2 separate regions of the Homo sapiens genome follow, and region 1 is linked to region 2. Evidence: fine-mapped expression QTL. Tissue or cell type: lymphoblastoid cells. Region 2 holds a variant in brackets; the other region holds the start of a gene. All regions are shown on one strand. Distances are from middle to middle.

Region 1 (8,187 bases), 720 kb after region 2:
GGATTTCGAAGGTATTGAGATGAAGAATCAGATTCAGTGCTGCATGTATGTTGAAGCTGTATGAGTCACCTGGAGAGCCTTTGCAAGCGCTTGTGCTAGGATTTGCATCCCTAACACTACCTCAGGCTTATTGGGGTGGGACCTAGTTTCCCAGGGGATTTTGATATGCAATCCAGCCAAAAAACATCAGCCAAATTTCTTCTGCATCCATTTAGGTCTTAAAAAAAAAAAAGGCCAGGCGTGGTGGCTCACACCTGTAATCCCAGCACTTTAGGAGGCTAAGGCGGGTGGATCACTTGAGCCCAGGAGTTCAAGACCAGCCTGTCCAACATGACGAGACCCCCTCTCTACAAAAATTTTTTAGAAAAATTAGCTGGGTGTGGTGGTGCACACCTGTAGTCCCAGCTATTTGGGAGGCTGATGGGGGAGGCTCACCTGACCCCAGGGAGGTCGAGCTTGCAGTGAACTGTGGTTATGCCACTGCACTCCAGCCTGGGGGACAGAGCAAGACCCTATCTTAAAACAAACAAAAAACAAAAAAGAGGCCTGTAAGATCTGCACGAAATTGTCCACTACTCTGACCAGTTCTGAGCAGCTTGGTCCTGCTACTTCCCCTGCTGTGTGCATCAAGCTTGGTCGTCTAGCTCTTCTGGCAGAGTGAGATTATAGTCACCTAGACCACCCCTTATTGGGTTTTTTTTTTTTCCATCTGAAATCTCATCTTTTCCCTTATTGTTCTTGGAGGAGTCGATCATTTTGGACCTATCTTTTCTGGTAAGAAAACAGAGGTTTCTGCCTGCTCTGTGACTTGCCCTCCGTTATGTAACACCTACTGATCAAGGGTAGACCAGGACTCCTGGCGCATCAGTTAATTTCTTTCCACTCCCTTCAATGGCCTTGTTTCATCATTTTTGATTGGTCACAATTCAAGAAGCAAAAAGTTGCTGCACAGTGCCAAATGTACCAAGTACTCTAAAAGTGAGAGCAAGCCTCTGCGTGCCTGGGCAGGCCACTGCTGTCACAGGCCACCTGCCTTTCACCAAGTCCACTTCTATCCCTGGGTGGAGGAGGGGCAGCTAAAAGTTCTCCTTTGTCAGGACAGTCAACCATGATCTCAAAAGAACTATGATTGTATTGTGCATTTTAAACCCTTGGAATGTTACATGGTGATGAGGTAACAGTGGCTATGAATGTTCTTACAAGTGGGAGCTGAGCATTGGGTACACAAGGACACAAAGATGGGAATAGTAAACACTGTGAATCCCAAAAGGGGGCAGGATGGGAGGAGGGCAAGAGATTAAAAACTACCTATGGGGCACTATGTTCACTACTTGGGCGATGGGATCATTAGAAGCCCAAACCTTAGCATCACACAGTATACCTGTGTAACAAACCTGCACATGTATCCCCTGCATCTGAAATAAAAACACAAAACACAAAAACAAAATATAAAAACAACAGCTCTGAGTTTTGACATAAGGTGTGCAGTGCAGATTCCCAAATCTAGATTTAACATGCGACGACACTAACAGGGTCTCCACATCATTCAGAGCCAACGTCAGGGGGATTGTTGGTGAGGAGAGGGGAGTGTGGATACCAGGAAAGGAACCAACCTCAGTTATGTCAGTTGGGCCAGAGGAGGCCAAAGGATCCTATCTCCCTGATGCCTTGTCTCAGACCTCAGTTGCCTTTGTGGTTGCCTAGTGCCACGGAGGCAACGGGCATTCAAAATTCTGCTAAATAAAAACACACAGCAAATTAGGTTTTATTTAAACTCAGTAACTTACTCTCCTTGTTAAAAACTCAGTAACTCACTCCCTTATTTTCTGTAATATGACTGTCAAGATTATGTCTTCACACGTGCCCTTCACATGAACATTCTGGGAGTGCATCTTGTTTTCCTAATGTTTAAAAAACATGCTGCAAGCTAATTTTAAACTGGGATGGGTAATGAAAAAGAGAGAATCATAGACTTCTCTGTGGCACCACCTCTCAGTTAAAAATTACCCATGCCTTTTTAATCTCTAGTCTTTGAGACTAAAAGCACATTAATCTACTTATTCCTAATTCATTTTCAGAATTTTCCCATAGAGCTACTTATATTCAGTCTCAAGGCATACTATATATCAGGACATACACTAAACTTTCAAATCATATTTAACAATTGATAAAATTTAAAACTTGTTATTAAATATTTTCATTTAAATGGATTTGGAGAAGTTGCAAACATACTATTGCAACATAGAGTGAAAGACCAACACTGTAGTGACTGTCGATGTAAACATTTTAACAAAGTTTTTGATTATCAAAAGAACTGAGGTCTTTTTGGTTGCTAAATTCCAGTCACTTCATTATTGCTTTCTTTCATGTTATTCATATTATTTTCCAGATGGGCAGGAGCAGCTTAAATGACTACTGTTGTTTGAAGGGCACAGCAAGCGTTGTATGTGTTTTGGCAGGGGGTAGCATAGGGCATGAGAAGGACAGGGAAGGAAGAGATTTGGAGGTAATTTCAAGCTCGTGCTGTCTGGAAGTAGTGCATTTTAAATTAGTGTTAGTGTGATGTTCTGCAGCAGCCAAGCTTGGGAATTTTTTATATCTTTAAGCAGAGTCTGGCGAGTGGTGGTGGTGGGAGGAGTATGAGAAGAGGGTGTTTAGAAATGCTGTAACTCAGGACATTCTCCTGAGCATATACATGTCTAAAGTCAGTGCTGTGCCCTGCCTCATTTGTCATTCCAAAATACATTTTTTTCCTTCCTCCATCTAAACCATGTTCAGGCCTTGTTCAAGTCCTGCCTCCTCCAGAGACACCACTCTGGCTTCTTAGCCTTTCATGCTTCCCCTTTTCTGAATCAAGAAGGCTCCTAGAATATTATGGCTAAAGGCACCTCCAGATTACCTCTCCAATCTGTCATTGTGCAGAAGGACAACTTGGCATCCATTTGCATGAGGTCTGTAGAACATGGTTCAGTACTGTCTTACACAGTTTAAGTGTTTTGTGTGGGTTAGGCTTATTTCCCCAACTATATTTGGCAGTCTTTTAGGAAAGGACTATGTCACACATTTCTTTTGTATATTTCATAAAAATAGCATATTGTAGGTACTCAGAAAATGCTTTTGGCTCTGGTAGCACTTCTCTGTGCAATGTGGATAAGCACTGATAGAGGCTTGTTTGTTGTGGTACAAACTAGAAACAACCCAAATGCCCATTCGAAGGGGAATAATTGAATATGTTATGGCATATCCATACAATGGAATAGTATTATATATAGTTATTAAGAGAAATGATTTAATCCTGTAGCTATCGACCTGGGGGATGTCCTCAGTACATCATTATTTTTGCAAATTGTAAGAGAGGGAAATAAGCCAGGCATGGTGGTATGCATCTGTAATCCAGACTACTTGGATTACAGATACTTGGGTGGGAGGATCGCTTGAACCCAAGAATTTGAGACCACCCTGGACAATATAGCAAGACCCCCATCTCAAAAAAAGTGTGTGTGTGGGAAATAGTAAAATCCCATTTTCTGATAATAAATAACGATAATCTCATATATCTGTATCTGTACCTACCAACAAGAACACGGGCTGTTCACATTTGTGGTAGGAAAGGTTATTAAGTTTTTTCTTTATCTGTTTTTGTATTGTTGCAACAGGAAACCTACTAAGATTAAAATCCAGCAAACATAAGACAAAGATAAAATGCACAGGGGTTTTGATGCATTAGGTGTTTCCCATAGTACTTCCTATTTTTCAAACTTCGTGTGATTAAAAAAGTAAGTTTTATCCCTGACTAAATTTCAGTGTGGAAATAAAGAAATAAAGATAGCATGTACTTGGCTTAGGTATACTTGTTTTGTTCTTTCAGCTCGTTACGTAAAGATACATTTTTTTTTCTTTCTCATGACATGAAGATAAGCTTTCTTCTTACCAAAACCTAAACTGTGAAGGCAGCACCCAAGCCAAAAGCCTCGAGGCTCTGGTTTCTGTGGTGGGATGGGGAGAGAAGTAGGTTGCACAGATGTAGGATGCCAGCTGACTTCAGAACTTCCGGTCTCAGAGCTAACCAGGCTCGGCAAGCCACAAGAGAGAAGGAGCTTGCATAGGTGGAAGAGCAAAGAAAGCCAGTGCTGCAGAACTTCCGGTGCTCCTCCGCCGATGTCGGGCTGGCGCTGCTCCCGAGCCCTGTGTCCTGTGGAAGAAGTTGGTGAGAATCGTTTTGAATGTAGGCAGCCACTCCTGAGGAGGCTAGCCCTTGCTACATTAAAGGTGGAGCTAGATTTACATTTTATTTTATTTTATTTTATTTTTTATTTTTCGAGATGGAGTCTTGCTGTCGCCCAGGCTGGAGTGCAGTAGCACGATTTCAGCTCACTGCAACCTCCACCTCCCGGGCTCAAGCGATTCACCTGCTTCAGCCTCCCGAGTAGCTGGGATTACAGGGGCACGCCACCATGCCTGGCTAATTTTTTGTATTTTTAGTAGAGACGGGGTTTCACCATGTTGGCCAGGCTGGTCTCAAACTCCTGGCCTCAGGTGATCCACCTGCCTCGGCCTCCCAAAGTGCTGGGATTACAGACGTGAGCCACCATGCCCGGTCAAATTTACCTTTTAGATTCACATATTACCACCAGAAGAATGCTTCCTCTGACAACTGAGCGGTACTCCATCCCCAGAGCCCTTTGTGCAGACTATTATTGCAGTTTCCTAACTTGTTATGACACTCCAGCCTTTTCCTCCAGGTCATCATACAATCCATTTTTAGAGTGATTGTTCTAAAGCACAAATCTTAGGTCACTCCCCTGCTCAAAAACCACCCACTGCTCCCCCAGTTCCACAGAAGAGAGCTCAAATTTCTTAGCTTGGTATTCAAGACCTTCCATGATAGGATCCCTGTCTACTACTCAGCTTACCTCACTTCTCCCCTCCTCCAGCCAAATGAAACTGTTCCCTGTGTATGTTCAGGCTCCCTAGCTTCTGCTCACAGCCTTCTGAATATGAAGAAGGGAAAGTCCCTTACCATTCCATCCGTCTCTACCTGTTTAAATCCTCCCCAGTCTTCAATATTCATTTCAGAGGCTGCGTCTTTCAGGAGGCCAGGTACAATTTCTCTCCCTTCTCCATGCACTTCTCCTGCGGCCTGTGCCTTACATTCTAGCTGTGCGTATTTGTATACTTCCTGTTACACCTTGGTAACCTCATCAAGGGAGAGACTGACTCTGACATTCCAGTGTCTGAATTTCTTTCTTTCTTTTTCTTTTTCTGTGTTTCTTTCTTTCTTTTTTTTTTTTTTTTTTTTTGAGACAGGATTTCACTCTGTCACCCAGGCTGGAGTGCAATGGTGTGAGCATGGCTCACTGCAGCCTCAATTTCCTGGGCTCAGTTGGTTCTCCCACCTCAGCCTCCCGAGTCGCTGGGACTACAGGTGTGCGCCACCGTGCCCAGCTAATTTTTGCATTTTTAGTGGAGATGTGGTTTCACCATGTGTCTAGGCTGGTCTGGAACTCCTGGATTCAAGTGATCCGCCTGCCTTGGTCTCCCAAAGTGTTGGGATTACAAGCATGAGCTACTGCGCCCGGCCTCCAGTGTCTGAATTTCTTATGCTCAGTAAATGTCTTATGCTTAATACATCTTTGTTGAATTGAATGTGGTTATCTGAAATGTACCAAATTAAGTTTTAGAAAACATATCTTTTATCCCCTGTTGGAGGGGGTAGTGTGTAAAGAAATAAAGGAGCTACGCACTGGGTTGGTGTCTGTGAAAGGAAATATGATATGACTTCTTTTTTTTTGCAGAATTTCCCATTTTCCCATTTTATATTATCGAATGTTTTCCAGTCTCTTAGGCTCCTCTCTCTTCCTGCTGCCTTATCCTTTCCCTTTGACATCTGTCACTGGATGTCCTTACCATGATTTTGGATGGGGAAATGAGAAGATGCTTCCTGAAAGACTACACTGAGGGGATTCTCTAATAGATTTTCATTCCATGTGACTTTTTCTGGCTGGGGAGGGAGTAGGGGACCTTCCAGTCATCTCAGGCAGAAACTAATTCAGGTCCTGATCAACCCACTGCCTTAAATTTTAGAATGGTTGCTATAACAATTTTAGAATGGTTGCTATAACAAGATGCCTTAGGAAAAAAAAAATTGACAATGGCCAGAACAGGAAGGTGACTCCGTTTTACACATGTCCCTAGTCCCTCACCTGTGGAGAGGTGGTGAGAGTTTAACTGCTTGCTGTCTTTCCAAGAATGCACGTGGAATTCAAAGAAAAGAACAGTAGAAGGGAAGGAGAGGGTTTAAAGGAAAATTGTCATGGGCTTTGGAAAGACCTGATTGTGTAAAAATTGCTTGCTGGTGTTTGGAAAGAACCCAGGTGCTAACAGATTTTAGACAAACCCAATCTGGAGTTGCCTAAATCATGAATGATTTAATGTGACTGAGTTAATCCATATATCTTGTATACAGTAGTTCCAGCCTCCTCAAATGTAGCAGGAGATTGCCACCTTTCTGAGAGTACCTTTCATTTCTACATGCTGATTTTGTTGTTGTTTTTAAAGGACACTTGAATTGCTTTATTTAGCTTCCAATTTGTGAGATTCTCAAAAATTAAAATTACTCATGACCACAAGAAGATACTTCTGTAGTTATGGATCATTTTCTGCTATTTTTTATAAGGAATACTTTTTTATTGTTGTCTTTTTTATAAGTGATGCACATACCAGGTAGTAATAAAAAGTCATGTTTTCCAGTGCACCCTAAAACTGAACTGCTGTCTCTATTTGAACAGACAAATAAATTATACTGAATATACCTACAACCCTGAAAATCATCTTCTGGCCATTTTTCTTTTTTCCCCACAAAGATCACTAAAGTGGTTTATATTGATTAACATTATTAAATCCACCTCTCATGTTTGCAACTACATGAATTCAATATGCAGTAAGATACAGTTATACAAAGAATGTAACCCAAGCCAAGATGAGAAATAAAACCTCTATACCAATTTTTCAAAACAGGAAACTGTTGCAGAAGTATATATAGTTGTTCTTTTTGTTTCACTAAAATTACATGGATTTAAATGTTCTGTATGAACTAACCTCCTGGATCCATTGTCCTTTTTGCCCAAATTAGCTTTCTTTAAAAGTTAACTCCCCAACACAATTTAATTATCTTAGCTAAAGTTTAGGTTTGATCTCAAGCCATTTGAAACTAGACAGAGTGAAAAAATCTGTGGGTAGTTGGCAGCAGATCCTGATAGAAATATGGCACTTGGCAAAGGCTGTCTGCCTTGTTTTGATTTGCCTTTCTCTTTATGGATGTGGCCTATTTTTGAAATGTTATGATTTAAATTCAGCGATCAAGTGACAAGTCTGACAAAACAGAGCTTACATCCGCAGAGGTTCTGTGGGGGAAAAAATGGAAATGTTCCAGAACTAAAGGAAGTAACCTCAGTTTCACCTGGAAACATTAGTGTTTCGGAGGCAAGGGATTTGGGCTATATATAAAGAGTGAAGGAAAGTGGCCAAGATGCTGGGCCAAAATTGCATCCAGGAATAGAGCAGACATTAAAGAACCAAAAACTATATCTGTTGTTTTCACCGTATCCCTGTAAGTAGCACCTGGGGAGACTGTGATTAAAAAAAAGATGGGAAAGTTCTTTCCTGTGATGGCTTGGATTGTAGCAACAGCCTTCTAACTGGGCCTCTAACTCCAATCTCTCCTTCTCCAGTACTCAGTGTACACTTTGGCCAGATTAAATTCTTGGGAAAACTCTATTCCTTTCTCCTGCTCATGACCCCCATTCCTGTTTGTCCATAAGATTAGGTAAAGGCTGGGTACAGTGCTCATGACTGTAATCCCAGCTCTTTGGGAGGCTGAGGCAGAAGAATTGCTTGAGGCCAGGGGTTCAAGAGCAGCCTGGGCAACATAGCGAGACCCTGTCTCCACAAAAAAATATTAAAAATTCACCAGGTTTAACAGTGGCCTGTGCCCATAGTCTGAATTACTTGGGAGGCTGAGGTGGGAGCATCGCTTGAGCCCAAGAGTTTGAGGTGGTAATGAGCTATATGATTGCACCAAAAAGATTAGGTTAAAGCTTCTTATGCTGATGTGATGCTCCCCCCACCCAGTTATTCATTTTTCTAACTTCATCTTCTATTATTTTCCAACATGAAAGATTTACTCTC
Region 2 (8,187 bases):
CCGGCCGAGACCCCGTCTGGGAGGTGAGGAGCGTCTCTGCCCGGCCGCCCCGTCTGAGAAGTGAGGAGACCCTCTGCCTGGCAACCACCCCGTCTGAGAAGTGAGGAGACCCTCCGACCGGCAGCTGCCCCGTCTGAGAAGTGAGGAGCCTCTCCACCCGGCAGCCACCCCATCTGGGAAGTGAGGAGCGTCTCCGCCCGGCAGCCACCCCGTCCGGGAGGGAGGTGGGGGGGGTCAGCCCCCCGCCCGGCCAGCCGCCCCATCCGGGAGGGAGGTGGGGGGTCAGCCCCCCGCCCGGCCAGCCGCCCCGTCCGGGAGGTGAGGGGCGCCTCTGCCCGGCCGCCCCTACTGGGAAGTGAGGAGCCCCTCAGCCTGGCCAGCCGCCCCGTCCGGTAGGGAGGTGGGGGGGTCAGCCCTCCGCCCGGCCAGCCGCCCCGTCTGGGAGGTGAGGGGCGCCTCTGCCCGGCCGCCCCTACTGGGAAGTGAGGAGCCCCTCTGCCCGGCCAGCCGCCCGGTCCGGGAGGGAGGTGGGGGGGTCAGCCCCCCGCCCGGCCAGCCGCCCCATCTGGGAGGGAGGTGGGGGGGTCAGCCCCCCGCCCGGCCAGCCGCCCCGTCTGGGAGGTGAGGGGCGCCTCTGCCCGGCCGCCCCTACTGGGAAGTGAGGAGCCCCTCTGCCCGGCCAGCCGCCCCGTCCGGGAGGGAGGTGGGGGGGTCAGCCCCCTGCCCGGCCAGCCACCCCGTCCGGGAGGTGAGGGGCGCCTCTGCCCGGCCGCCCCTACTGGGAAGTGAGGAGCCCCTCTGCCCAGCCAGCCGCCCCGTCCGGGAGGGAGGTGGGGGGGTGGGGGGGTCAGCCCCCTGCCCGGCCAGCCGCCCCGTCCGGGAGGTGAGGGGCGCCTCTGCCCGGCTGCCCCTACTGGGAAGTAAGGAGCCCCTCTGCCCGGCCACCACCCCGTCTGGGAGGTGTGCCCAACAGCTCATTGAGAACGGGCCAGGATGACAATGGCGGCTTTGTGGAATAGAAAGGCGGGAAAGGTGGGGAAAAGATTGAGAAATCGGATGGTTGCCGTGTCTGTGTAGAAAGAAGTAGACATGGGAGACTTTTCATTTTGTTCTGCACTAAGAAAAATTCTTCTGCCTTGGGATCCTGTTGATCTGTGACCTTACCCCCAACCCTGTGCTCTCTGAAACATGTGCTGTGTCCACTCAGGGTTAAATGGATTAAGGGCGGTGCAAGATGTGCTTTGTTAAACAGATGCTTGAAGGCAGCATGCTCGTTAAGAGTCATCACCAATCCCTAATCTCAAGTAATCAGGGACACAAACACTGCGGAAGGCCGCAGGGTCCTCTGCCTAGGAAAACCAGAGACCTTTGTTCACTTGTTTATCTGCTGACCTTCCCTCCACTATTGTCCCATGACCCTGCCAAATCCCCCTCTGTGAGAAACACCCAAGAATTATCAATAAAAAAATAAATTTAAAAAAAAAAAAAAAAAAGAATTTATCAATCAACCTGCACTTGTCTCTATCTGTACCTAGAATTCTGCTAGATAGGGCACTTTCCTTCACTAACACCACCCAAATACAAAAGGAGAAAATATAGAAACATTAAATATAAAGATAATAACACAAGTTTTCATGACTGTTATATTATGAGATACCCAGTAAAAGAGTTGTAAAAATTCTGATGAGAGAAATAACAGTGTGAACTGGATTTCAGTTTTCTGATATTTCAGAAAAGATATGCAGTTTCTGTTGTACATTAAACTCAAAGAAGTGTATGTCAGGTGAGAGAGACGGTGTGATCAAAGGTACAGAGGTGGAACAAGAGTGGAGTGTGCATAGAAATTAAGTCATGAAAATAGAGATTTTGGTGGGTAAGTACAGGTATGCTTGTTTCTCCAAGTATTAGGTAAAGAAATGCTTATTTATTTATTTATTTAAATTTGATTTGTATTTTTTGAACTTTTATCCATTTATTTAATTCAACTATAAAAGCTTATATCCGCCTGAATTAAGTATGAGGACATTTTTCCACGCCAATATTTATAATCAAGGCATACATTCTTACCACAACCAGTAATTTTTCACCCGAAACTTTGAAAAGGACCCCTATTAATTAATAGAGGTGCCTCTTGTTTTCCTATTTCATAGGTTCCATGCCATTATAAGTAACACTCAGCAACTGATAGATGCTGGTTTGCTATCATTCAATATAAACCAAATTTTCAGAAGAAATACAGTCATGTACCACATAACGCTTTGTTCAACAACCAACCTCATATATGACAGATTATAATACTGTATTTTTTACTGTCCCTTTTCTATTTTTAGATATGTTTAGATGCACAAATACCATTGTGTTATAATTGCCTACAGTATTTAGTACAGTAACATGCTGCATTCTTTGTAGCCTAGGAGCAATAGGTTGTATCATGTAGCCTAGGTGTGTAATAGGCTACACCGTCTAAGTCTGTCAATGTGAGTATACTCTATGATGTTTGTATGATGACAAAATCGCCTAACAATGCCCTGTCGTTAGCGACACATGACTGTACAATCACTAGATACTAAAGGCATAAGTATACATTCAATTTCATCTCCATGGCCTTTCTCATTGAGCTGGGAAATTAACTTGCTCATAAATCAAAATACGAAAGGCTTTCATGGTTTGCAAAGAACATTACATTGGCTTGCAAATAATGCTGGATATTTGCCCACTTTTGGAAAACAGCTGCAACAAAGTTATAGAAAATATGCCAAGTCATTTCACCCTTAGTTCTATATATATTCTTCAGAGGGCACAAGACCACAGCAGGTGTATCTTTTTACACTAGACACTGTCTGTAAGAACTATAATAATTTGAGCAGCATAAACCTATGCAAGCAACCTTAGGTACTTTTGCATATGTTATTATATACTTACTCTATTTTGCAATCATTCCATTAATTTCAATTGTTTCACTCATCAGAAATGTTACAATAAAATGAAGCAGCCATTTGGTTAATAATTTTTTCAAAATATGAAGTTACCATTTCAAAGGAGCTAGAAAAATAGTAATAATTTCCAATTCCAAGAAAGAAATCTCAGTCTTCCTCAGGCACTCTGTCCTCTGCTTGTCACTGATGTAGCATCCCATGCTACATGGTAGTGTCCAGTTTCTTCATGTTTCACAAACCACTCAACATCAAAAGCACTGGAGAGAAAGATGATACACACAAGTCTTCCAATGAGCATTCTGAGACAGTCTGTGGAACAGCTGTCCCTTTCACTCTCCCCTGCAGAAATAGCTGTGCCATTCTGAACAGCATTGTGATTAATGTTTCATATTCAAAAGTTTAATTTGACGGACCACTGATAAATTTTGAGTTGCAGAGTCAAAAAGACCAATGGATAAACAATAACCCAGTTGCTATTGACTTTGTGCCAGAAGACAATATATATGATCTTATTTCATTTTCATGACCACCCTATGGCTAGGCATTATTATTACCCTCATTTTCCAGATAAGGAAATCAAAGCACAAAGAGGTTAGGGAAGTTGCCCAAGATCACACAACTAGTAAATGGTGTGTAGCCAGGATTCAAACCCAAGCAATCTAAGAACTTGTCATTTTCTTCCAGAGACTTAATACAATGAGTTTATTTCTCATTCATGCTTCAAGGTCAACACAGGTCATCAGGAGAGTGCTCTGCTCTTCTTAGTCACTCAGAGAATCAGGCATACAGAAGCTCCATTTGGACACATATTTCCCCATTCATGCAGGCAGGAAAAGGAAATGTAGCAAACCTTGTACCAGCCCTTAAAATGTCCTCCTGGATAGAACATAAGTCACTTCCTCTCTTGTATCATTGGTGATTACAAGTCATATGCCTAACTTCAAAGAGGCTAGGAAATGCATTCTTACTCTGTGTTAGGAAGGCAGACAGCCAAAATATTTTGGAGCAGAACTAATGACAACTATAAAGGAAGTCAATGAGTGGGGGTTTTGAAGACACAGGAACATCATTAGAATTGTCAAGGAGGTGGAGCTTCCAATAACTATCTTGATTTTGATTTTTTTAGTTATGTTAAAACATCATGATAGTAAACGACATGTGGGTAAATGCCCTGTAAGAAAATCTTTGTGCTTCAGTACAAAACTATACATTGTCTAGAAAACATCCTTCTGGGTATCTGATTCTGACCCTATGGGTGTTGTCTTACAACTCTATAAATTATAGGTAACCGATTGCAATACAAAACAATTCTTGTCTATAGACATGCACATTATGTCCTGTCCAGTGGAGGTTAAACTGACTTGCTTTCCTCCCAGCAAAAGAAGCTAGTTTTGCCTCCATTTGCATGTTCATTTCAATATTTTTGATCTATAAATATATCTGATCTTTGGATTTATCTTTAAACTAGTTGTAGCATCTGCCTTGTTCCTTCATTATGAATTAAGTAAAATCTTTTAACACTATAATAATTTTTATATCTGTATGTGAGTCATTATTTTACTTTGTGTGTGTATGTGTGTGTGTGAGGGAGAGAGAGAGAGAGAGAGAGAGAGAGAGA[GAC/C]AGGGTCTCCGTCTGTTGCCCAGGCTGGAGTGCAATGGTGCAATCACAGCTCACTGCAGCCTCAACCTCCTAAGCTCAAGTGATCCTCCCACCTCAGGCTCCCCTAGTAGCTGGGACTACAGGTGCATGCTACCTCACCTGGTTAATTTTTCGTTTTTTGTTTTTTGGGATTTTTTTGGCAGAGATTGAGTTTCGCCATGTTGCTCAGGCTGGTCTCAAACTCCTGGGCTCAAGCTATCTGCCTGCCTCAACCTCCCAAAGTGCTGGGATTACAGGCATGAGCCACCGTGCCTGGCCAACTTTACCCTTGTTAAAAATCTTCTTTTAAATGGACCATTATTTTTTATAATAAACTTTAATTTTTAGAACAGTATCAGACTGTAGAAAAATAATGAAAATAGTACAGAGAGTTCCTATATACTCCATACTCCGTTTCTCCTATTTATATCTTACATATTATGGTACATGTTTTTATAGTTAATGAACTATTACTGATATATTAACTAAAATCCATATTTTCTTCTAATTTCCTTAGTTTTTGCCTAACGCCCTCTTTCTGTTCCAGGCTCTCATCCAGGAAACCACACTGCAGTTAGTTGACATGTCTCCGCCTTAGGCTCCTCTCGGCTGTGATAGTTTCTCATTCTTTTCCTGTTTTTGATTACCTTATTAGTTTTGAGTACTGGTCAAGTATTATATAACATGTCCCTGAACTGGGATTTATCTGATGTTTTTCTCATGATCAGACTGGGGTTATGGGTTTGGAGGAGGAAGACAACAGAGGTAAGGTGCCATTTTTATCATATCAAGTGATAAATATGTATGTATAGAGAATATATACTATCAAATGATTTCTCACTGTTGAGGTTAACCTTGCTCACCTGGCTAGTTTTTGTTGGGTTTCTCCACTGTAAAGTTACTTTAACCCACCTTTCCACACTGTACTCTTTATATCAGTATGGACTCACGGATCTATTTTATTTGGGGTGGCGGTGGGGCAGGTTCCAGTACTACTTTATGTTGTTGCTCAAACAGTTCCAGTGTTGGCCATTGGAAGCTCTTTCAGTTGGCTCCTGGGTCCCTTTGATATAACCCATTCTTGTGGATTTGTTTGTTGTTGTTATTGTTTTGTTTTAAGCTCTTCCTTACTTCATGGCACTACAAGATACTACAGGTTCATCGCGTACATCTCCTGCCCAGTCCTAGAATCATCCACTTACATAAGGAGCCTTGGTTCCTTTTCCTTGGTTCCTTTTATCGTCTTGTCACATTCTGCATTCAATCCTAGGATCCCCCAACCCCTTAAATTATTTTTTCATTTGCATACATTAAGGTTCACTCTGTGTACTATAAAGTTCTATGGGTTTTAACAAATACATAGTATCATATATCCATAATTACAATATCATACAAAATAGCATCACCACCCTAAAAAATTCTCTGTACTTCACCTACTCAACCCTGCTTCCTCTGCCAGCAACCACTAATAGTTTTACTATTACTACAGTCACTTTTCCAGAATATCATATAATTGGAACCATAGAGTATGTAGCCTTTCACTTAGCAATATGCATTTAAGATTCATCCATTTCTTTTTGTGGCTTGATAGCTATTTCTGTTTATCAATGAATAATATTTTATTTTATGATATACCACAATTTATCTAATCACCTATTAAAGGACATTTTTGTTGTTTCTAGTTTTCAGAAATTATTAATAAAGCTGTCAAAACATTCACATGTAGGTTTTTGTGTAGACAAGTTTTCAAATCCATTTGGTAAATAACTAGGAGTACAATTTCTGGTGTGATAAGACTATATTTAGCTTTGTAGGAAACTGTCAAACTATCTTTTAAAGTGGCTGTTCCATTTTGTTTTCCCAGAAGCAATGAATGAGGGTTCCTTTTGCTCTGCATTCTTGCCAGCAATTGGTATTGTCAGTTTTTTTGGATTTTTGCCATTCTAATAGGTGTACAGTGGTTTCTTATTGTTGTTTAATTTGCAATTCTCATCTACAGCCATACTACCTTGAACATGCCTAATCTTGTCTAATTTGCAATTCCCTAATGACAAAAATGACATCTTTCCATATGCTTGTCATCATGTATATTTTTAGTGAGGTATCTGTTCAGTTCTTTTGCCCATTTTTTATTTGAGCAGGTAATAACTTTTTAGCCTACATCATTTTGCTGGGCACCGGGCATCAGAGTCCATCTTTGATTTTCCCTTCACTCTTATTTTTGGGCAGTATCTGGTATGCAATTTGAATTGGCCTTCTCTGAAAGCCTGCTCTCTTAACCATGACTCTGTCCTGGTCTCTAAACTGCTGCAGCTGCTGGTAATGAAGATGATGATGATGATGATATATATTGAGTGCTAACTATGTGCCATTGCATGGACTGCATTGTACATATATAAGTGTACAGCATGGATTATTCCCTTTCCTCCTCACAACAACCCTAAATGTAAATACTATCAGTATCTCTGTTTTATAAATGAGAAAACTGAAAACTAGAGAACATTAAGAAACTTGCCCATGTTTACAGCTAGTGAGTAACTGAGCCACTACTGAATCCAGAGAGTTTAAGTCCAGAGCCTATAATCTTAACCAGTATGGAATATCCACACTGCCTAGAAACTAGAAAGATAAAAAGCTAAAAACAACTTATATTCTTTCCCAGTGCTTAAAAATACTTGAAACACCAAATCAGTCATTTTTGGAAACTACCAAAAACAAATATTATCTGTGGAAAAGGAATGAAACAAATTACTGATAAGTAGTCAAAATAATGTTATCTGAATGCTGAAAATGTACTCCTACCAAGTAAAACACAGAGAAGAATTAGGCAATCTTTGCCTCAAGAATTTAATGGTTAGGACAAAGGAAGGTTTCAACATCTCCAAGTTGCAGCACTAATATGACCACAAGCAATCACAGACATATGCCTACCAGGCTCTTAGTTATAGCAACTAAAGCTGGTATATTGTCTGATGCTAACTTAGCTATTTCTCCTATTGTCCTCTGAAAAATCTTATACTAATTCTAGAAACAATAACAACTGAGATACCTAAAGAAGTGTCATTGGTAAAGAAATCATCCTTCATCTCTGTATCTCTCTCAGCCTTCGCATCACCAAGCCCCTCCAACCACTTGAGTCAGAGCTTTGAGATGAAAGGGAAATCATCACCTTATCACACACAAATAGGGTATCGGTGCCTCATGGAAGGGAAGCAGTTGAGCTGGAAATCATCACTAGGTTGTCTGAAATCCTTCCTGACGATTAACAAGCTGCTTCTGTGAAAGGAGCACATGCTATGAAGAAGAAAGATCTCCACCTTCTTCTGCTTAACTCCCAGCACCACTGAACTGGGAATCTCACATCCTGCTGCCATCGGACTTCAAAAAAAAAAAAAATCTCCTTCTGAAGAGTAAAATTTTGAGGTTTGGTTTAAAAAAAAAAACCCTCCTTTTATCCACAGAATTCTTGGAAAGAGTGTCTTCTGACTCTTCCTCTCTTTCACACTTGACAAGTAAAATTCCTCCAAAACTGGCTCCTCATTTAAATATGGGTAGGAAATAGATTTAGACTTGGCATCTTGAAAAATGGGACTGCTGACATACAAATCCTGCT

The links. PIP is the estimated chance that this variant, and not a neighbour inherited with it, causes the effect.
Region 1: ANKRD44-AS1 starts here. The variant in region 2 is fine-mapped to the expression of ANKRD44-AS1 in lymphoblastoid cells (GEUVADIS, PIP 0.95).

What each region holds. Positions count from the first base shown.
Region 1 is chr2:197,194,923-197,203,109 of GRCh38, reverse strand. ANKRD44-AS1 (ANKRD44 antisense RNA 1) reads right to left here and starts at 5,119. Exons shown (of 2, transcript NR_135584.1): 1 at 5,021-5,119; 2 at 3,837-4,192. All of the region lies in intron 1 of ANKRD44 (ankyrin repeat domain 44), which reads left to right. RefSeq lists an enhancer at 4,004-4,073.
Region 2 is chr2:197,915,306-197,923,492 of GRCh38, reverse strand. All of the region lies in intron 1 of PLCL1 (phospholipase C like 1 (inactive)), which reads right to left. Among named protein-coding and RNA genes, the nearest start is that of PLCL1, 110 kb to the right of the region's middle. The variant GAC/C (reference allele first, on the strand shown) is at 4,555.